Linked DNA regions of Homo sapiens: regions 2, 3 and 4 are each linked to region 1. Evidence: fine-mapped expression QTL. A gene starts in region 1. Each other region holds a variant in brackets. All regions are shown on one strand. Distances are between the middles of the regions.

Region 1 (5,293 bases):
GAGATCTCTACTTCAAGAATTCATAACCTTTGAAGTTAACCTAGTTAAACCCAAACATTTTAGATCCTCTTCCAACACTGTTCACAGACATCAAATTTTAGCTGCTGACAATGAATGATGGGACATGGGGGTTATTGCCCTATTCCGTCTGTTAATATGTTTGAAATGTGCCATAATAAACTTTTAAAAATTAGATTATCACAGTACCCAACCTAAGGCATCAAAATGTGTTTGATCAAGCTGGGTGCAGTGGCTCATGCCTGTAATCCCAGCACTTTGGGAAGCCGAGGCAGGCAAATCACTTGAGGCCAGGAATTTGAGACCAGCCTAGTCAACATGGCAAAACCCTGTCTCCACTAAAAATACAAAAAAATTAGCCAGGCACAGTGGCGCGCACCTGTAAGACCAGCTACTCAGGACACAGAGGCATGAGAATCGCTTGAACCCAGGAGGCAGAGGCTGCAGTGATCAGAGATGGCACCACTGTACTCCAGCCTCGGCAACAGAGCAAGACTCTCTCAAAACAAAAACAAAACCAATTAGCCAATTGGAGAAATCTGATGGACTGGGCATCAAATGATATTACAGGGTTACTATAAAAAAAAATGTGTTTGACCAATCACATAAATTGAATATACCACATAGTAAAATGTGTGACTCCTAAGCTGGACATAGCGGTGGCGGCACACGCCTGTAGTCTAACTACTCAGGATGCTGAAACTAAAGGATCACTTGAGCCCAAGCGTTTGAGGTTGTAGTAAGCTATAATAGTGCCACTGCACTCCAGCCTGGGTGACAGAGCAAGACCCCATCTCTAAAACAAACAAACCATAAATGCATAAATTTAAAATAAATGTGAAGTCAACCAACTATTTTAAAATAAAATAAAATGTGTGACTCCTGATAATCTATGCTGTCCTGACCATAAAACAGGAAGTTAACATTTTAGAACCCCTAAAATAAAATGCCATTCAAACACAGCCACATTTCAGTGAAACCAGCCACATTTTAAAGGAATCAGAAAATCCCTTTCCATTACAATGCAACTAGAAGGCCTGCATAAGTGGAGGGCCCTTCTAACAGAATTCCACAGTTCCCCAACCCAGAATTCCCGAATTATTTACACTTTCCCATAATTAACACCCTTATCTTTTTTAATATGCAGGTTTGGTTGTTTTAACTGAAAGCATATAACTTAAATAGTGAACCAAAATAACCCAAACTCTTATTCAGCACATCTCACAGAATACACATTTTCAATATTCCAGATTAGCAGGATGGAGAGTTCAGGAGAGAGATCAAAATTTAAATCTGTCAGTGACGACCACACACAGCAGCAGACTGCAAGGTTCTTCTCAATAATGCAAAACATCTTTCATCTATGAATTTTCCCAGTTTTCATGAATTTAAATATCTACAGAAATGTTATAAAAGCTTTAAAATTCCTAAATCCCAGTGCTACTCTATTCCCTATTATTCCAGGACCATTTCCAAAACCAAAGCTACCAGAACAGCTTAGAAATCATTAGGCGGGGTTGAAAAATAGACTCTTAGATTTAAATATACGGTTTTGGTGGGTTTGGTTGTTTCTTTAGGGTTTTTTGTTGTTTTTGTTTTGTTTTGTTTTTTGTTTTGGGGTTTTGTTTGTTTGTTGTTTTTTGAGACAGAGTCTCGCTCTGTCGCCCAGGCTGGAGGTTACTGGCACAATCTCGGCTCACTGCAACCTCTGCCTCCCGGGTTCAAGCGATTCTCCTACCTCAGCCTCCCGAGTAGCTGGGATTATAGGCACCAACCACCGCTCCCGGCTAATTTTTGTATTTGTAGTAGAGATAGGGTTTCTCTATGTTGGCCAGGCTGGTCTCGAACTCCTGGCCTCAGGTGATCTGCCCGCCTTGGCCTCCCAAAGAGCTGGGATTACAGGTGTGAGCCACAGCCCCCGGCCTGTTTTGTTTTTAATTCATACTTTTGTGGACACAAGAACGCATATTTGGTGCAGACTGGCTCCAAGGACAGGATATCTGAAATTATTTGAACTGAAACAATATAGTTGTGCCAATAAAGACAGAAAAGACTAAAGACAATATAAAGCTTGTCATTTAAATGTTTTTTAAAAAATATCTTTCGTACCGTGGTTTTCTTAAAACGACTACTTTATCTACACTAATCATCTGGACCTCTGATGCCCAACCGAGACGAAAGTGCTGAGTGATGACCAGGGGTCGGGTAGCTTGGTCCACAAGAAAAAGAGAAATGTTTTCATCTTGAATTCTTTAGATCCCGACCCCTCCGCGCAGAGTTCAGCGGGCGAGGGCGAGGGGCGTCCTGGGCAGGGGGCGCCCCTCATCCAGCCTAGGCTCCAGTCACGTACGTGCACGCAACTGTCAAAGCTCAGCCCAAGGAGCAACTCTCCGCATCTGTGCATTTCATCCTGAGTCAAGCCCCATAAAAATTGGAATACGTAAAAATGGGCAAAAATTGAACATTTAAAATACAGCAGTGAAAAGGGAGGAGTGCCTGCTCCGGAAATGCTCTAAGCGTGGTTCATCAACACTCCCTGAAGAGCGGACCACGGAGATGCTCCGAGGCTCCGCCATCCCGCACGCAGGACAAAGGTGCTGAGAATGAGGCGCGCTGGTCCTGCACCCTCTGCCGAGAGCCGGAAGCCAGGGGCGCGCCGGGGCCGGTCGGGCACGTGCAGGGGGCTCTCCGGCCGCCGCGCTGCCCCGAAGCCGGCCCTGGGGACTCGCGGCTGCGCGGACCGAGCTCGCGAAGGGGACCAGGCTCGCGGAGGGGCCGCAGCGGCCCCAAGGATGGCGCAGGAAGACCCCCCACGCAAGACAGCCGGTCGCGGGGGTCAGGGGCGGCTCCTCCCGGGCCCGGCCCCGCCCGACTGACCTGTGACGCTGGCCCGGGTGACGCGCTGCACCACGGCCTTCATGGCGGCGGCTGGGGCGAGTGGGGCGGCGCCGCGCTGCGTCCGGCCTCGCGACTCTGAGGGCGGCTCCGCAGCCGGCGCCCTCTGGAGGTGACACCCGGAAGCGCGCCCAACTGGCCGGTCCGACTCGGTCGGCTGCTACCCACCCCACGTCGGCCACGCCCACTCTCGGCCTGGCGATAGGCCCACCCACTCATAGATTGACTCCGCCTATGCCTGCCACGCCCACCTGCTGCCCAACCGTAACCCCGCCCGTCATTGAAAAGCCCAGTCCCCACGCTCGGCCCTGCCCCATCCACATCTGGGTCCCGCCAGAGCCCTTTGATCCCCCCATCCCGGGCCCAGCCCCTACCCAGTGCCCAGAACCCACTCTGCCCCGAAGGTAGTCTCTATGCTGGTTTTTTTCTCCCACATACCCGAACCTAAGAACCCGTCATCACTAAGCCTTTAAATTCAGCCTGAATCCTATTTCTAATTGTATTCCTCTTTCCTCTTCCACTCCTCTGCACGCAGATCCTCCCAAATTCTTCTTCCTTGTCTTCCTGCCTCAGTGGCTTTTCAGATACCACATACAAAAGGATCTGCTGCCTAAAATAGCCATTTACCTATCTCACTATTAATTCGACTTAGCCATGTCATGATAATAAATAGGTATGTGATTCTAGAATTCTAATTTCTCATGTAATATAAATGCTACTAATTGGCCCCCTCACTGGGTTGTTAGATTTAAATGAACCAAACCACGTAAAAGTGCTTAGATGGCAGCAAAGGGCTGTACAACTATTACCCCAACAAATTATTATCATTGCTAAAAATAATTCCATCTCAGCAGTCTTCACCTTAAAGGTGACTAATAGCATTGGTGGGCGTAGAAAAGGCACTGAAATTGAGAAGAAACCCTCACTTGCCCAGAAAAGACTACAAACTAGTGTGCTTGTTTGTTAAATACTGAATACTAAATTGCCTTAATAACGTTGTCAAAGTTAACATAACCAGTAACAAGACATCATGTGCCTCCTGATATTGCACTGGGAAGGACACAACATCAATCTTGTGGTATTTCTGCCAAATAATGTATAACCTGAATCCAATCATGATGAAACATAGGACAAAAATAAATTGAGGAACATTCTACAAAATAACCAGGTAGGATTCCGAGAATTAAGGAGGATTTTTTTTTTTTTTTTTTTTGAGATGCAGTTTTGCTCTTGTGGCCCAGGCTGAAGTGCAATGGTGTGATCTTGGCTATCCACAACTTCTGCCTCCTGGGTTCAAGCAATTCTTCTGCCTCAACCTCCTGAGTAGCTGGGATTACAAGCATGCGCCGCCACGCCCGGCTAATTTTGTATTTTTATTAAAGATGAGATTTCTCCATGTTGGTCAGGCTGGTCTCGAACTCCCGACCTCAGGTGATCTGCCCGCTTTGGCCTCCCAAAGTGCTGGGATTACAGGCATGAGCCACTGCGCCCAGCCGTGGACTTTTTAAAAGACAGGAAAACTACCTGTAATCCCAGCACTTTGGGAGGTCAAGGTGGGCGGATCATTGGAGGTCAGGAGTTCGAGGCCTGCCTGGCCAACATGGTGAAACCCCGTCTCTACTAAAAATACAAAAATTAGCCAGGCATGGCAGCGCATGCCTGTAATCCCAGCTACTCGGGAGGCTGAGGCAAGAAAATTGCTTGAACCCGGGAGGCGGAGGTTACGGTGAGCCGATATCGTGCCACTGCACTCCAGCCTGGGTGACAAAGCAAGACTCTGTCTCAAAAAAAAAAAAAAAAAAAAAAAAGACAGGAAAACTAAATTAACCTGGGTGGTATCCTGGCCAGAAAAATCAAGAAAAGGAAAAGCTTATTATTGGAACAACTGGTAAAATTTGAGTTTTTGAAAAATCAGCAGGTCTCAATATTTTGATCACAGGATCCCTTTACATTCTTAAAAATTATTGGGCACAAAGTATAGCTTTTGTTTAGGTGGATTATATCTAAAAATGTTTACTGTTTTTAACTAAGAGAAATAGTTAACATGGATTTATCAATGCATTTAAAAATAGCAATAATAAATCCCCTACATATGAATATCAGAGCAATGAAGTCACTATATGTCACGGAGCCCCTGGAAAACTCCATTGTGCACTCCTGAAAGAATAAGACTAAAAAAGGGAAAATTGGGCTGGTCGTGGTGGTTCACGCCTGTAATTCCAGCACTTTGGGAGGCTGAGGCAGGTGGATCACTTGAGGTCAGGAGTTCAAGACCAGCCTGGCCAACATGGTGAAACCCCATCTCTACTAAAAATACAAAAATTAGCCAGGCGTGATGGTGGGCACCTATAATCCCAGCTACTTGGGAGGCTGAGGCACA
Region 2 (5,293 bases), 25 kb after region 1:
AATTTTTGCTCTTTGAAGGTCACAGTTGAGAAAATGAAAAGCCAAGCCACAGAATAAAATATTCATAATAACATATATCTAACAAAAGGACTTGGATCCAGAATATATGAGGACGCTTTACAACTCAGTTATAAAAATACAGCCCAACTAAAAACCAGGCAATAAATTTGAATAGAACGAAAGAAGATATACAAATGACCAATAAGCACAGTAGCATCATTAGTCATCACAGAAATGGACATTAAAAGAATACAATAAGAGACCATTACACACCTACTAGAATGGCTAAAATCAGATTGAGAATGCCAAGAGCTGTAAGGATTTGGAATAATTGGAACTGTTATTGATGGGAACATAAAATGTTACAATCTCTTTGCAAAACTTAGTTTTTAAAAAGTTGAACATATGCCTACCATATAACCCAGGCATTCCGTTTCTAGTTATCCATGAGAAATGAAAACCTGTGTCTGCACACAGCCATGTACATGAATGTTCATAGTTTTATTCTTAATAGGAAAAAATAGAAACCACCCCCAATACCCATCGAGTAAATGGCTAAACAAAACGTGGGATACCACTTACAAATAAAAAGGAACTACTGGCTGGGTACGGGTGGCTCACACCTGTAATCCCAGCACTTTGGGAGGCCAAGATGGGTGGGTCACCTCAAGTCAGGAGATCGAGACCAGCCTGGCCAACATGGTGAAACCTCGTCTCCACTAAAAATACAAAAATTAGCCGGGCATGGTGGCGGGCGCCTGTAATCCCAGCTATTCCAGAGGCTGAGACAGGAGAATTACTTGAATCCAGGAGGCGGAGGTTGTGGTGAGCCGAGATTACACCACTGCACTCCAGCCTGGGTGACAGAGTGAGACTCCTTCTCAAAAAAAAAAAAAAAAAAAAAAAAAAAGAACTACTGATAAATACAACCATACGATGAATCTCAAAATGGATTATGCTAAGTGAAAAAGCAAGCTAGACACCAAAGAAACCAGTCACGAAATTCTAGAAGCAAACTCCAGTGGGAGAAAGCTGATGAGTAGTTGTCTGCAGTAAGGGCATGGAGAGAGGGAAGGGCTAAAAGGGTCTGAGGAGACTTTGAGAGGTGATGGTAATGTTCTGTATGTTGATTATTGTGGTGGTTTCTGTCAAGATTTATCCAATTGTATGCTTTAAATGGGTGCAGTTTATTATATGTGAACTATAGCTCAATAGTTATAGACAAAACAGAAAAATTGGTATTGTTTCAAGCTTGCGTCTCTTCTCATCCTTCTCATCAGCCTTACTCATGATACCTATGTTATATGTTAATAACTCTCAAATCTACTCCAGATTCTCTGAAAGCAAATTCATGTTACTGCCAACCTGCTATGCATCCTCGGCTGCATATTCCACAAGCTCCTGAAACTAAAAAAATGTTCCGAATTGAATTTATCAATGCCACTCCCAACAGGAAACAAACCTTCCCTTTCTCTTCCCTGATTCAGAGAGTGATTGAGAAATTGCCCAAGCCAGGAACTTGGAATCATCTCACCTGACATCCTCTGTCACCTCTGTCTAAATACCCTGTCTCTGTTTAGGCCTCATTTCTCACTTGGATTACAGTCTCCTCTCATCCTTCCCCCTCTGGAGTGTCTTTCAAACCTTAAATTATCATTTCACCCTCTGCCTAAGATAAGTCAGAGGCTTGCCCTACCTTCAAGATGGAGTTCAATACCCACAAAAATTAACAATTAATAAAAAGATGGAGTTCAGAGTCCTCACTGGGCATACTGGGCTCAGTGGCCCCTTCTCATGATAGCTGTTTTCCACACAGCACTATCACCCTGCCACCCCCTACATTCTGTGGAAAAACGTCACTGGTACCCTAAGGTGGGACCTGCATGGCCATGTCATACCATGCAGTTCCCTCAGCTCCTTAACTCACTGACACTAGAGAGAACCGCAGAGTTAGCTGGGTCTATCACACAGTCTTTTTTCTGTTAATTTGAAACAGAAAAGCCAAAGAGGATGTTTTGGCCTTAATCTGTACAGACAACTTTATGTATTCTTCTATATGATGTGTTAAAAATTATATCCAAAACTAAAAATATTCTTGGAAAACGCACAGAAAAATGTAAATGTTCAACTTTTTTTTTTTTTTTTTTTTTTGAGATGAAGTCTCCCTCTGTCACCCAGGCTGGAGTATAGTGGCGTGACCTCAGCTCACTGCAACCTCCACCTCCGAGGTTCAAGTGATTCTCCTGCCTCAGCTTCCCAAGTAGCTGGGATTACAGGTGCCCACCACCACTCCTGGCTAATTTTTTAATATTTTTAGTAGAGATGGGGTTTCACCATGTTGGCCAGGCTGGTTTTGAACTCCTGACCTCAAGTGATCTGCCCACCTCAGCCTCCCAAAGTGCTAGGATTACAGGTGTGAGCCACCGCACCTGGCCAATGTTCAACATTTTAAGATAGGAAACTCTGCTAGAATTCTGCTAGAATGTAGGGCAGAGACAAAAAGAAATACAATAACTTGTATTCGAATACAAATTCAAAACAGAGTATTGCAATCAATCCAGCTGTTCCAACATCCAATTAATAGGAGCTTCCAGCTTCATTTTCCTACATAGCACTCATTACCTTCTAATGTATCATTTACTTCATTTCTTTTTTGTTTTTTATTTTTTTGAGACGGAGTCTCGTTCTGTTGCCCAGGCTGGAGTGCAGTGGCACAATCTCACTGCAACCTCCATCTCCTGGGTTCAAACAATTTGTCCCTGCCTCAGCCTCCCAAGTAGCTGGGATTACAGGTGTGCACCACCATGCCTGGCTAATTTTTGTATTTTTAATAGAGAAAGGGTTTCGCCATGTTGGCCAGGCTGGTCTCAAACTCCTGACCTCAGGTGATCCGCCCACTTCGGCCTCCCAAAGTGCTGGGATTACAGGCATGAGCCACCACGCCCGGCCATATCATTTACTTCTAACATTGTTATTGTTGGTCTTCCCTAACTAACACATAAGCTCTATGAAAACAGGAATTTTTGTTTTATTGGCAGTATTCCCAATGCCTAGAAGACTACTCCATAGACAACAAGTACCGGATAGTTATTTGTTGAACGAATGAAAGAATGACTCCAAAGTTCTGAGATTATCTTGGGCCTATACTTTTTAGACCCAGTGGGTTAGTCTGTCTTTGGATCTCTGTAATGGAACACCCGAGACTGGGTAATTTATTTTAAAAAGAGGTTTACGG[T/C]TTATGCTTATGGCTTACGGTTCTGTAGGCTGTACAGGACGCATGGTGCCAGCATCTGCTTCTGGTGAAGGCCTCAGGAAGCTTACAATCAGGGCAGAAGGTGAAGAGGTAGCCCGATGTACCACATGGCAAGAACGAGAGGAAGAGGTGGGGGAGGTAACACTTTAAAAAAATTTTTTTTGAGACAGTCTCGCTCTGTCCCCCAGGGAGTGCAGTGGTGCGATCTCGGCTCACTGCAACCTCTGCCTCCTGGGTTCAAGCCATTCTCATGCCTCGGCCTCCTGAGTAGCTGGGATTACAGGCGCAAGCCACCACACCCGGCTAATTTTTGTATTTTTAGTAGAGATGGGGTTTCACCATGTTGGCCAGGCTGGTCTCAAACTCCTGACCTCAGGTGATCTGCCCGCCTCAGCCTCCCTAAGTGCTGGGATTATAGGCATGAGCCACTGTGCCCAGCCAACACACTTTTAAACAATCATACCTCATTTGAACCCAGGACAAGAACTCACTCATTTCTGTGAGGATGGCACCAAGCCATTCATGAAGGATCCAGCGGTATGACCCAAACTCCTCCTACCAGGCCCCACCTCCAATCCTGGGGATTACATTTCAATGACGGACTTGGAGGGGACAAATATCCAAACTATATTACCTGGCAAAGCTATAAAGTGTGAAGACAGAATAGATTTGCAGATATGCTAAGATGCAGTGAGTTCTCCCCAAGTACTCCTTTTAGTAAAAGTCATTTGAGATTGCAAAATGCCTTATGGAATAAAGGGAAGAGTGGAACTAACCCGAGATTCCAAACAGAAGAAATTCCTGGATGACAGTTGTGCAGTAGGTCAAAGTTATTGGCCCCCCTTAAAAGGGGACATCAGTGGCCTCCAAAGAAGAAAAAAATGGACTTCATTCAGTAGAATAGGCTAGAATTTCTTAGTAAATAGAAAGCAAAATATTTCTTCTCTCAGAAAGCAAACAAAATTTAGAAATTCTGGGGAAAACCACAGCAAATCTAAGAAATCATAATCCAAATAGGGATCAAACCAACATGCGGCATGATGGAATGTAAGAAAGTAACTCTGATTCTGTCCTTTGGAATGTTTTCCTACAAGTGACATAGGGACTGACTGGGACACTAGCACCCTAGAGAAAAATGTCATCCTACCTGGCTTGGACTGGAACAATATTTACATCATCACGGCTGTGTAAATGCTTCTTAGGAGCTTTCAGCTTTGACAATCAACTTAGTGACAAAAAATATGATAATAGGCCAGAATATAATCTCTTTTTTTTCCTGAAACAGGGTCTTGCTCTCCCACCCAGGCTGGAGTGCAGTGGCATGATGAGAGCCCACTGCAACCTTGAACTCCTGGGCTCAAGTGATCCTCCTGCCTTAGCCTCCCAAGTAGCTAGGACTACAGTCACACACCACCATGGCCCAGTAACTTTTAAAATTTTTTGTAGAGACAGTCTCGCTATGTTGCCCAGGCTGGTCTTAAACTCCTGGCCTCAAGTGAGTCTCCTGCATTGGCCTCCTAAATTTAGCACTGGGATTACAGGTGTGAGCCACTGTATCTGACCCAGAATATACATTTTACCAATCTTGATAATATAAAAATAAAAATACAAAAATGACCAAAGGTATATTAATATATTGATTCTTTGAAAATGAGAATTGAGACATGGGCTAAAATTAAATACATCAACAACAAAAATCTTGTAAGGAGAGGTTAAAAGCAGTTATCTTCAAAAAGTAGGTCTGAGTTTATAGAGTGGAGGTAACTTATTTGTTATGAGCTCTTTAGGATAAGGTATATTTGTTTCATTTTGATCCTGCATATACATTACTTTAATTATGAGAATTAGGTTCAGGAAACACCTCTTAAGGAAGTCACTTAAAACACATACACACTCACACAGAGACCTCAGGAAATCACATTTGTATTAGCAATATTTTAGCCAGTACTTTCTGCATCTAGATTTATTTCCTTTATGATCATTAAGATTCTCACCTAAACAAGCTGCCAAAATACATTACCTCTGATTTTATTTAGATTC
Region 3 (5,293 bases), 120 kb after region 1:
TGACTGTAATCCCAAATCAGGCTGGCTTCTCTGAGACAGATGGAGTCATGGAAACCAGTTAAGATGCTACTGCAGCTGTCCAGGTAAAAGCCATGAGCCTGAACATGATGCAGTACCAGGGATAGAAATGGAGGGGGTGTGGACAGCAAATTTAAGAACTGTTTTTAAGAGCTAAAATCAGAAACATTACATGATTTATTAATAATCACTCCCTTTCTTAATATCCTTTGATAGCTCTACTACTGCCTGCATACAACCTATAGCCAATAGGACTCGCAGTGGGTGGGTGGTGGCAGAGGTGGTAAAAGAGAGGTGCTGAAGATGATTTTCAGTCAGAAGGAAAGAGCTGAGAGGGCGATCAGAGGAAGAAAAGAACTTTTTCCACTGCTACAACCTCCCAGAATCCCTTCCTCTGTCTTTCCTAGAGCTGAAGACCTTCACCACAGTGAAATAACTAGAAATCAGCAACATTCCTTTGTCCTTGGGCTAGAACAGGGGTGAGCAATCTGCTCCACAGCTTGTTTTTATAACCAAAGTTTTGTTGGAACATGGCTGTAGCCATTTGTTTATGTATCATCATCCATGGCTGCTTCTTGCTAAAATGACAGTGTAGTTGTGACAGAAATCATATGGCTCACAAAGCCTAAAACATATACTGTCTGGCACTTTATAGAAAAAGTTTGCCAACTCCTGAGCTAGAAAATTGATGGGAAAGGTTTAAGAAAAGATTCATCGGACCCCAAATCTCCACATCCAGAGCCCTTGGAAATCCAACAAGGCTAGTAGACTTAAAAAACAAATCAGTCATTCAGATGAGGCCTTGGCGTAGAACTCTTTAACCTAACTGCTACTAAAGCCAAACTGAAATGCTCTTAGGAAAAGGATGTTTTGGTGATGAGGGAAAGTAAGGGAGATTTAGAGCATCGGCACCACTTGGTGGGTTTTTAGACAGTCTTGCTTGTTTGTTTCTGGACAGATGGAGAATGGCTTCACTGATAAATTCCATTGCAATGTCACTGGGGGCTAAGGCTGCACTTCCTCCCCAAAGCCCAACATTCTTCATTCAACTGGACTCATTCTTGCTTCCTGAAATGCTCAGAGTGACAATGTGGAGAATGAAACCCTGATGACTGGGCTCTGTGACAACTCATAGGAAAATCGGGGGGTGGAATATTTTATGGGAAATGGCCCAACACCAGCAGTAGGAAGCAAACAGAAGGTGAGAACAGACTAGACCTATGTATGGCAGTGGCAATTAATAAATACAACAGTTATACCATAATACATTTATTTCATTTGTCTTATAACGCATAATTATTTCTTCTTTTTTCAATTCAGGTAGTTTGAGCTGTTTCCTGGTTTAGAGTCTTATCAGTCAAACCTAACACACTTTCTCGTTTTATGACTGCTGTATTAGGGTTCTCCAGAGAAAAAGAACCAATAGGATACACCTCCCTCTTGAAAGATTCATCAGAAGCTATTTGCTCTGTGATTATGGAGGCTGAGGAGTCCCATCATCTGCCCTCTGCAAGCTGGAGACCCAGGAAAGCTGGTGTTGCAGATCAAAGGGCTGAGAGCAGAGAGCTGATGGTGTAGATACCAGTCCAAGTCTGAAGGTCTGAGAACCAGGAGTGCTGAGGGCACAAGATTCATAGCCCAGCTCAAGATTGAATTCAAAGAGTGAATTCAATCTTCCTCTGCCACTTTGTTCTATTTAGGCCCTGAATGGATTGGATGATGCTCACCCAACTGGACCCATATCTACTTTACTCCGTTCACCAATTCAAAATGCTAACCTCTTTCAGAAACACCCACACAGACACTCCAATAAAATATTTAACTAGATATGTAGGAATCCTGTATCTTAGTCAAGTTGACATGAAATTAACCATCACAACTACATAATAAAAACCAGTGATAATCAGCATATCAGTAATTATGCAAAATAGTTAGATTCACCTTACCATAGACAACAACCTATTGATGGCTACTGCCCGCTGCTGGGCTTCTATATGAGGCATTTCATTCTGAATTACTTGGTCTGTGATTCCATGAGGGAACTGGTGACATAATTCTATAATCCTAGAAACAAAGGTATTAATGTTATCCTTCATGGTTACCTGTTTCAAGAGACAGTGGGGGTAAAAATACAAGTAGAATAGTTTGAAACTGTGCCTTTTTCACATTTGGCAGACAATCTGGGTTTCTGTGATGGTTTTGGATCAAAGCATGTTAGAAATTGAAGAAGATGATTTCTAAATACATGTTTACAGTATTATTGTTATTTAAGAATATTTCTTTTCCTCACTAATAAGAACTTTAAATTAGAGCAAAAGTCTAATGAAATCACAGAAAAAATATTAAAGCTGAGACTTCAGTTTTCTCGGGTGTAATAAGCATGACAAAGTTAAGCCATAAATCTGCAAGCAGGAGGCAAATGCAGATGTTTCTGGTAGGAAGCCAAAATTTGTTATGACAATTCACCATAATGGGGCCTGTTTTTGGAATTATACCTACCAAACAAAAAAAGTCAAAATCTTCACCTAGTCGACATCAACAAATGTATTATTCCTAACAGTCTGAGAAAGTTGAGTCTTTTAAAACTACGTGAAAATCTAAGAGTGGCAGTGCCTCGGTAAAATATAAAA[C/T]TGGGCCGGGCGCGGTGGCTCACGCCTGTAATCCCAGCACTTTGGGAGGCCGAGGCGGGCGGATCACGAGGTCAGGAGATCGAGACCATCCCAGACAACATGGTGAAACCCCGTCTCTACTAAAACATAAAAAATTAGCTGGGCGTGGTGGCGCGAGCCTGTAGTCCCAGCTACTCGGGAGGCTAAGGCAGGGGAATCGCTTGAACCCGGGAGGCGGAGATTGCAGTGAACCGAGATCGCGCCACTGCACTCCAGCCTGGCGACAGAGCGAGACTCTGTCTCACAAACAAACAAATAAAAATAAAAGTGGCAGAGGCTTTGGGTGTCCTAAAAGTCTTGAGTTCAATACTGCACTGAAACCACCTGGCTTAATGTTACTTCGTAATCACCAACTGCGCCCTAACTCCGCCTAAACGTTTTGTCATAGACGTTCCCTTAGTGACAAGAGCGATCCTGGATCAGAACATGTATTCACAAGTGTTCTACAGGGAAAGAAAGCCGAGGGCTCCTCTCAAAGCACTGATCGCGTCAAAGTAGGAAGGCAGCACGTCATCACAACTTCCCCAAAAGTATCAGGGCAAAGCCAGCCAGCTACACAAAGTTGCAAGCTGTCAAACCCATTTTGAACTTCTTGAGTTCTGCTCTCCCAGGATGGGAAGGAACAAGTGGGTCCAGAACCCCGCAATCGTTTTTCCCGCGTGCTCACCTAACCCGCTCCGGCCACTCCCAAGGGATCCCGGAGAAGGGGTCCAGCTGCCCAAATGACTGGGCGCCTGATGGAGTGCCAAGCCGGAGCCTCACTGGTTTACCTGTTTTCTATTTCGACCGGATCCGCGTCAGGCGGCTGCACCTTCACCTTCACCTCCGCCATGAGGGCGCAGTTCCTGACGCCTGGGGGGAAAGATGCACGGAGCAGCCCGGTAGCAAGCCGGGGAACCCGGGGAACCAGTGGAGGATAGCGCTCTGCTGAGGCCGAGGGGCCTTCTTCCTCGTGTCGCAGCCGGTCCTTCCTTGCCTTTCGGCGGGAGGTGGCCAAGCTGCGCCTGCTCCGGCCCACTTACAGGCGCCGCTACAGCTTCTTATTCTTGTTTTCCAGAATGTCAATGCCCATCGGACGCACAAGCCTGGTTCCTTCATTCTGAGTTGGGAAACCAACTTTTAGCACTTGGCAACTCTGTGAAGGAATATTCTTAGATGCCTATGGGAAAGCACTGGGAAAGGAACTCCAGGCGGGTACCAGGCTCCCTGCGGAGCGGCAGGGGCCGGTCTAGTTGCTAAGAAGCTGAGTCTCCACCAATCATCTGCCCAGCACCCAGTGGGCGGGGCGCGGCTCGCCGCGTCTGTGGTAACCCGGGCGGCGGCGAAGGAGGAGGCAAGAGGCGGTGAGAGGCTGGCGACTGGGTTGGGCGCGGCAGAGATGCATTAGGGGTCCCGATCCCGGGCCCCGCGGTTAGAGGAAGAGGAGGGCGGCTAGAGGAGGGGAAGAGCTTCCCTTACTCCAGCCGAAAGGATGCAGGTGTCCTTGGCAGCCCCTGATGGGCGGGAACAACCAAACGGGATTCCGGATCCGGGCTGCGAGGGGGCGGTCCACGTTGGGAGAGTTGAGGGGTCTGGGGATCCTGTTGACTGCACGTTGCCATTTGGGCCTGGCGGATCCGCCTTTTTTCTTGATTCCCTTTGCGTGGGGCCCACTGGCCACCCCAGCTTCCTAAGGGCAGCTGCTAGTTGACGCTCGCGAATTACTTCCTCTCCTACATATTTTTTATTTAGAATTTTTCAACTACTTTTATTTTATCTGCCTTTCACTTAAATGGAAATGCGACTATGGGCAAGTCTCAAGTCCAGCCACACTCCCGTAGGAGCTATTGTTGTGCTGTCAGTATCTGTAGTTTATATTCTTGGCCCTAGATCCGGAACTATCCAACAAGGCATTAAGTTCACCCCTTAAATTTAGGTACCCCATTTTTGAGAATACAGTCTGTGACAAAGCTCAAACTGCAGACATGTTCAGATCAGCATTATTAGAACTGCAACAGGCAAAACTAAAAAGAAACTAGAAATAGCCTAAATGCCCAGCCACAAATGGATAAATAAGTACAGGGAAAACTAAATAATACAGTGAGAATGCAAGAAGTAGACTATAAAAATGGAATGAATATGTAGATTATAATTGGGCAAAATCTATGGATTATTAATGAAATTTGAAAAGGCAATACAGAGATGTAAATGGTTGTTGTGTTAAGGTGAGCGTTTTTTCCCCCTGAAACCTTCTGTGCATTAATTATGACAACCTTCCTCCCCACCCTCACCTCCAAAAAGACCAGTAAGGCTTTCATACTGGTAGTTAATTATTAATACCAGGATTTATAAATACAGTAGATGAAACGGGAGGCTTGTGTTTATTGGTCACTGTTTATATTCTTGCAAACTTCCTTTCCACTGAGAAGTAGTACTCTGCAGTCCTTCTAAAGTGTCTTTGCAGCTTTCAAATACTAGAACTGCTCTGGTGATAATGGCAAGGCTGTGAACCCGGAGCTTTCCCAAAAAAGTTAGCTCTAACTAACATTTTGTGGTACACACAGAATTACTTCTGTTCCCCTTGTATGATGACTTGCCCTGAAGCCAAGAGAGCTGACACACACCAG
Region 4 (5,293 bases), 160 kb before region 1:
TTTTGGAGGGGTGGGAGTGGAAGTTTTATGTGACGTCCCTTCCCTTCGAGGCACCCTTCAGTGTCCCATGCATACGTGAGATACATAAGCCAAGGCTGGTCACCACAGTGCTGTTGTCTCCCTGCACAACACTAGCAGGAAAACACAGTGATGAGGGAACAGTTAAGAGGACAACAGGACTCACTGTCCAGTCCCCTCCCCTAAAACTGTCTATGAACCAACAATCCACCCTTCCTGAGCTCTCCATTCTGTTCCTCTCGTCTGTGTATCCATTTGGGAGCTGGTGCCACTGTGCCCAATTACAACTAATGTATCTTTTTTAAATTTTATTTTTAAGAGTCAGGGTCTCACTCTGTCACCCAGGCTGGAGTGCAGTGCTGCAATCATGGCTCACTGCAGCCTCCAACTCCCAAACTCAAGCAATCCTCCCACCTCAGCTTTCTGAGTAGCTAGGATGATAGGCAAGCACCACCATGCTCAGCTAATTTTTTTTTTTAAGAGACGGGGGTCTCACCATGTTGCCCAGGCTGGTCTCAAACTCTTGGGTTCGAGTGATTCTCTCACTTCAACCTCCCAAAGTGCTAGGATTACAGGTGTAAGCCACCACACCTGGCCTAATATATCTCACTTCCTGGTATTGTGGATCCTAAAAGCCATTTCATAGGTACACTTCTGACCCTTGCTCTCTTTCAGAAGAGAAAGAGAAGGCTGAAAACCACCTTCTGGATGTTCTTCTATCATAATTTGGTGTCTCTTGGGTGAATTCTGTCTCCTAACTTGGTTTTAACCACAGTCTGTGAGCTGAAGGCTCCAAATTGTATGTCCGAGACCTGGCTCCCCAGCTCTAAAGCCACAGACTCAGCAGACGACTGGCATCACCATTGGCTGCCAACAGGCACCTCAAACACAACACACCCAAAATAGGTACCGTCAGCAACCCCCATCTTCCTCCCTCATCCTTCTGGATGTCTCCTCTTCCAATCTAATCAGTCACCACGTTGAAATGATTCTATTTCCTTTACATCTTTCAATCCCACTCTTTCCCCTCTGTTCCTACTATAATTTTTTCTCTGGACTTCTGCAATCACCTCCTAATGGGCCTATCTGCTTCCAGCCTCACTCCCCAAAGCTGCTCAAGTGAGTGCTCTTTTTAAACTTTGTATCTGATGATGTCACTTGTACACTTAAAACCTTTCAGAGGTCCCTCCCGCCCCAGGATAAAATCCAAATTCCTCAGGGTTGCATACCAGACCCTATACAATCCAGACCTCCTATTTCTCTAAGTTCAGAGATGCTCCCTGCCCTCCCACTCCACTTGGCACTCAACACTCCCACCCTTCTGCAATTCCTCCATTCCCAAACTCTCCTGTCCTTGCCCCCCAACCTCCAGATGGCATTTGCACTGCTCTTCTCTTGGCTCAGGCAGCTCTCCCCTGCCCTTGCCCCTCATCTGCCTCCCCACTGCCACCTGTCCTTCCAGATCTGGTCCCAGGCCTCTGAGGGGCCTCTCCTGACCTCCCATCTCCACCCCACACCTGTTCACACTCCTGCCACACGCACCGTGCTGTAGTATAACTGTTCCTATGCTTCTCCCTGAGCCTGTGACCTCCCCATGACAGGTCCTGGGTCCCTCAAATCTGCACCCAGTATTTGGTCCAGTGCTTGGCAAAATAAACAGGTTCCCTGGTGGGAGGAACTAGGCACAGTGCCATCAGATGGCCGCATCACATTTTCAAGGCCTCTGATGTTCAGGCAGGGAGGTGGACTCCGTGCTACAGTGAGCCACAATAAGAATAAAATGCCATTTTAGGAAAAGTAAACTCACAGTGCCACACGGGGCACTGTGAAGGATTTCAGAACACGGGGCAGGTGGCAATGAAAGTAGGCTGCTGAGATGGCAGTGCCCTTTGCTAGAGTGGCTAAGAGCAGGAAGGGAGATGCAGGAGCGCAAGTGGACTCTGCATCTGCATCTGGATTCTGTATCGGTGAGTGAGTGTTCTGCACAGGCAATCACAGCAGCAGCTGTGGACTGGCACAGGCAGCCAGAGAAGGTGGCACAAACAGGTTCCACCCCCAGGTGGGCACCCCAGGCCTGTGGTATGCCACCCTCCTGCATCTCAATGAATAAAATACAATCTTATTTGCTAACTGATATGGTTTGGCTGTGTCCCCACCCAAATCTCATCTTGAATTGTAGCTCCCA[T/C]AATTCCCACGTAGGAACACACACGTGGAAATTATGGGAACTACAATTCAAGATGAGGGGCCTGGTGGGAGGTAACTGAATCATGGGGGCAGTTTCCCCCATACTGTTCTCTTGGTAGTGAACAAGTCTCACAAGAGCTGATGGTTTTATAAGGGGAAACCCCTTTCACTTGTTTTTTGTTTTTTTTTTTTGAGATGGAGTCTTGCTCTGTCACCAGGCTGGAGTGCTTGACCCTTATACTCTCTTGCCTGCCGCCATGTAAGAAATGCCTTTTGCCTTCAACCATGATTGTGAGGCCTCCCCAGCCACGTGGAACTGCGAGTCCATTAAACTTCTTTATCTTTATAAATTACTCAGTCTCAGGTATGTCTTTATCAGCAGCGTGAAAACGGACTAACACACTAACTTTTGTCTCCATCCTGGAAGGCAGCAGATTTAAGGAAGCTATGGATGAACGCTGTGAAATGAATGAATTCAGCCTCAGCAGCTATTCCCTCCTATTCATTGCTGCTTCCCCAAAATGTGGGAAGATGAAGCCAAGCAGGGAAACTCCTACCTGAATTCTGCCTCCTGAGCTACGGCTCCCGTTCAGAGGACACGTCGCCCTCAGCCCCGCTGCTGGCACTGCGGTCTTCTTTTCGGGGAGTGTTTCTTTCCTTGCTTGATTCAGAAGGTCCCTTAGCTCTGGTCTTTTCTTTCCTCTGCTGCTGTTTTTCGAGCTTTGACAGCTGATTAAATAAAAATAAAAAAGAATATTTTACAAACACAAACACATGCCTGTGTATCCCACACACCAGTGACTTCCCAGGTGGGAACCATTGAAAAGTTTTTTTCTGATAACCTGGCAGAGCACAGTGGTTCAGATATACCAAATTATACACAGAATGTTTTTCCAACAGGCACCTGAATCACTGAAACAAATCATTAGTCATAGGAGTAATCACTCTCAGACTTTTCCCCAACCATAATTCAACTTGGCACACAGTATGAGGGAGCGGTCATGCCACAGCCTTCTTCAACAGCCTTAGAAGAGCTCCATATATGAAGGCTTTTCATCTCTTACTTTTTTCTTTGATAGTTTTTTTTCTCATCAAGTTACCTTCTACTTGTTGTTTTCTTTTTTCTTTTCTTTTCTTTTTTTTTTTTTTTTTTTTGAGACAGGGTCTCACTCTGTTGCCCAGGCTGAAGTACAGTGGTGCGGTCACAGTTCACTGCAGCCTCAACCTCCTGGGTTCAAGTGATCCTCCCACCTCAACCTCTCAAGTATCTGTGACTACAGGTGCATGCCAATTTTTCTGTAGAAACAGAGTTTCACCATGTTGCCCAAGCTGTTCTTGAACTCCTGGGCTCAAGCAACCCACCCACCTCGGCCTCCCAAAGTGTTGTGATTACAGGTGTGAGCCACCATGCCACACCACGTGTTTTCTAAAGAATGTTCAAAACACATTACTCTTTGCTGAAGATTACAGAGAAGGCTGTGAAACAAAGTGCATTAAGCACACTGAACACCGTCTCAGTTACCAGTTGATTTGAGACTGAAGGCTGACTTGCTTGCAGGCTGCGTGGTGGCAACACTCAGGACACTGGCCACTAGAGCCTTCTTAGGCTCCCACCAGGCCAGCAGGGGACATGCCCCTGATGTCTCACTCGAATGGAACCTGGGCCCACTTCTTCCCTGAATAGTTCTTCAAAGAAAGCATCAGCTAGATGGCTGAAAGAAGCTTCCATCATCTAACACTGAGCAGCAGCCCAGCCACTACAGGAAAGCCTGCTGAGAAACCCAGCAGAGAAGACCGGCCAAGTTTTGAACCACGGAATTTTCTTAGACCAAAAAACACAAGAGACAGCAATACCCAGTTTTATCTCCCTCCCAGACTAAGTCTGTGAACTTTTTCTAGTTTACATAAAAAGAAGGAAACTTATTGAAGGGCTGGCTTCTCCCTGCTGGTCCCTGCCCCACATCCAAGACACAAAGAGGATTCACTTCCCCCAATCTGCCAGATCATTTCTTCCACTATGAACAGACTTTGAGTTAACCCTTCGAGAGATGAACAACCAACCAGTAGCTCTCAATTGGGTCCAGGAAATCAAATTTATTAATAATTGACTTATAGTAGTGGTCCCCAACATTTTTGGCACCAGGGACCGGTTTTATAGAAGACAATTTTTCTGTGAGATGGGGGACAGAAGAGGGGATGGTTTCAGGATGAAACTGTTCCATCTCAGAGCATCAGACATTGGTGAGATTCTCATAAGAAGCCTGCAACCTAGATCCCCCGCATGCACAGTTCACAATGGGGTTCCCGCTCCTATGAGAATCTAAGGCCACTGCTGATCTGACAGGAGGCGGAGCTCAGGTGATAATGCTCGTTCATAGGCTGCTCACCTCCTGCTGTGCAGACTAGTTCCTAACAGGCCACAGGGATTAGTACCGGTCCCTGGCCTGGGGGTTGAGGACCCCTGGCTTATTCTTTCCTACTCCCCATTTACCTGAAAAGCTGTAGAATACAGCTAAGTTTGGTTAATATACTAATTAGATTTTGTGAATGAAGACATCACTTCACCTTTGACTCAGCAACTCTCCTCCGAAAACTCCCCTGGATAAATTTCCACTTGTGTGCACAGTGGGGGCTTCTGAGAACATGGACTGTAGTGTCATTTGTATTTGCAAAAACCTAGAAACAACCCAAATGTCCATCAACATTAGGAGGACAGATACGTGTAATGTGGTCTGGTCCCCTAAAGCAATATTGTACAGTAGATCTACATATATCAAAATAGCCAAGTCTTGGTCAGAGGTGGTGGCTCATGCCTGCAATAGCGGCACTTTAGGAGACCAAGGTGGGCGACTGCTTGGGCTCAGGAGTTTGAGACCAGCCTGGGCAACATAGAGAGACCCTGTCTCTACAAAAAAAAAAAAAAAAAAAAAATACAAAGGTTAGCCAGGCGTGGTGGCACATGCCTGTAGTCCCAGCTACTGGGGAGGCTGAGACGGGAGGATCGCTTGAGCCCAGCAAGCAGAGGTTACAGTAAGTTGAGATCATGTCACTGCACTCCAGCCTGGGTGACAGAGGAAGACTGTCTCAAAAA

What was found. PIP is the estimated chance that this variant, and not a neighbour inherited with it, causes the effect.
Region 2: its variant is fine-mapped to the expression of DTD1 in whole blood (INTERVAL, PIP 0.95).
Region 3: its variant is fine-mapped to the expression of DTD1 in whole blood (TOPMed, PIP above 0.99).
Region 4: its variant is fine-mapped to the expression of DTD1 in whole blood (TOPMed, PIP above 0.99).

What each region holds. Positions count from the first base shown.
Region 1 is chr20:18,585,718-18,591,010 of GRCh38, reverse strand. DTD1 (D-aminoacyl-tRNA deacylase 1) reads right to left here and starts at 2,957. Exons shown (of 6, transcript NM_080820.6): 1 at 2,896-2,957. The coding sequence starts at 2,938. It overlaps LOC124904878 (a long non-coding RNA gene), which reads left to right and starts at 3,546. Exons shown (of 3, transcript XR_007067547.1): 1 at 3,546-3,586. RefSeq lists enhancers at 2,421-2,480, 2,321-2,820 and a silencer at 2,591-3,130.
Region 2 is chr20:18,560,990-18,566,282 of GRCh38, reverse strand. SEC23B (SEC23 homolog B, COPII component) reads right to left here. Exons shown (of 20, transcript NM_006363.6): 20 at 4,868-5,293. Among named protein-coding and RNA genes, the nearest start is that of SMIM26, 3.8 kb to the left of the region's middle. The variant T/C (reference allele first, on the strand shown) is at 3,236.
Region 3 is chr20:18,465,733-18,471,025 of GRCh38, reverse strand. DZANK1 (double zinc ribbon and ankyrin repeat domains 1) reads left to right here and starts at 3,996. Exons shown (of 21, transcript NM_001367614.1): 1 at 3,996-4,030. It overlaps POLR3F (RNA polymerase III subunit F), which reads right to left and starts at 3,636. Exons shown (of 9, transcript NM_006466.4): 1 at 3,458-3,636; 2 at 1,965-2,082. The coding sequence starts at 3,519. MIR3192 (microRNA 3192) reads right to left here and starts at 411; the gene lies at 335-411. RefSeq lists enhancers at 3,556-3,875, 3,498-4,116. The variant C/T (reference allele first, on the strand shown) is at 2,649.
Region 4 is chr20:18,741,738-18,747,030 of GRCh38, reverse strand. It overlaps DTD1 (D-aminoacyl-tRNA deacylase 1), which reads right to left. Exons shown (of 6, transcript NM_080820.6): 5 at 2,760-2,931. The coding sequence ends at 2,779. Among named protein-coding and RNA genes, the nearest start is that of DTD1-AS1, 46 kb to the right of the region's middle. The variant T/C (reference allele first, on the strand shown) is at 2,204.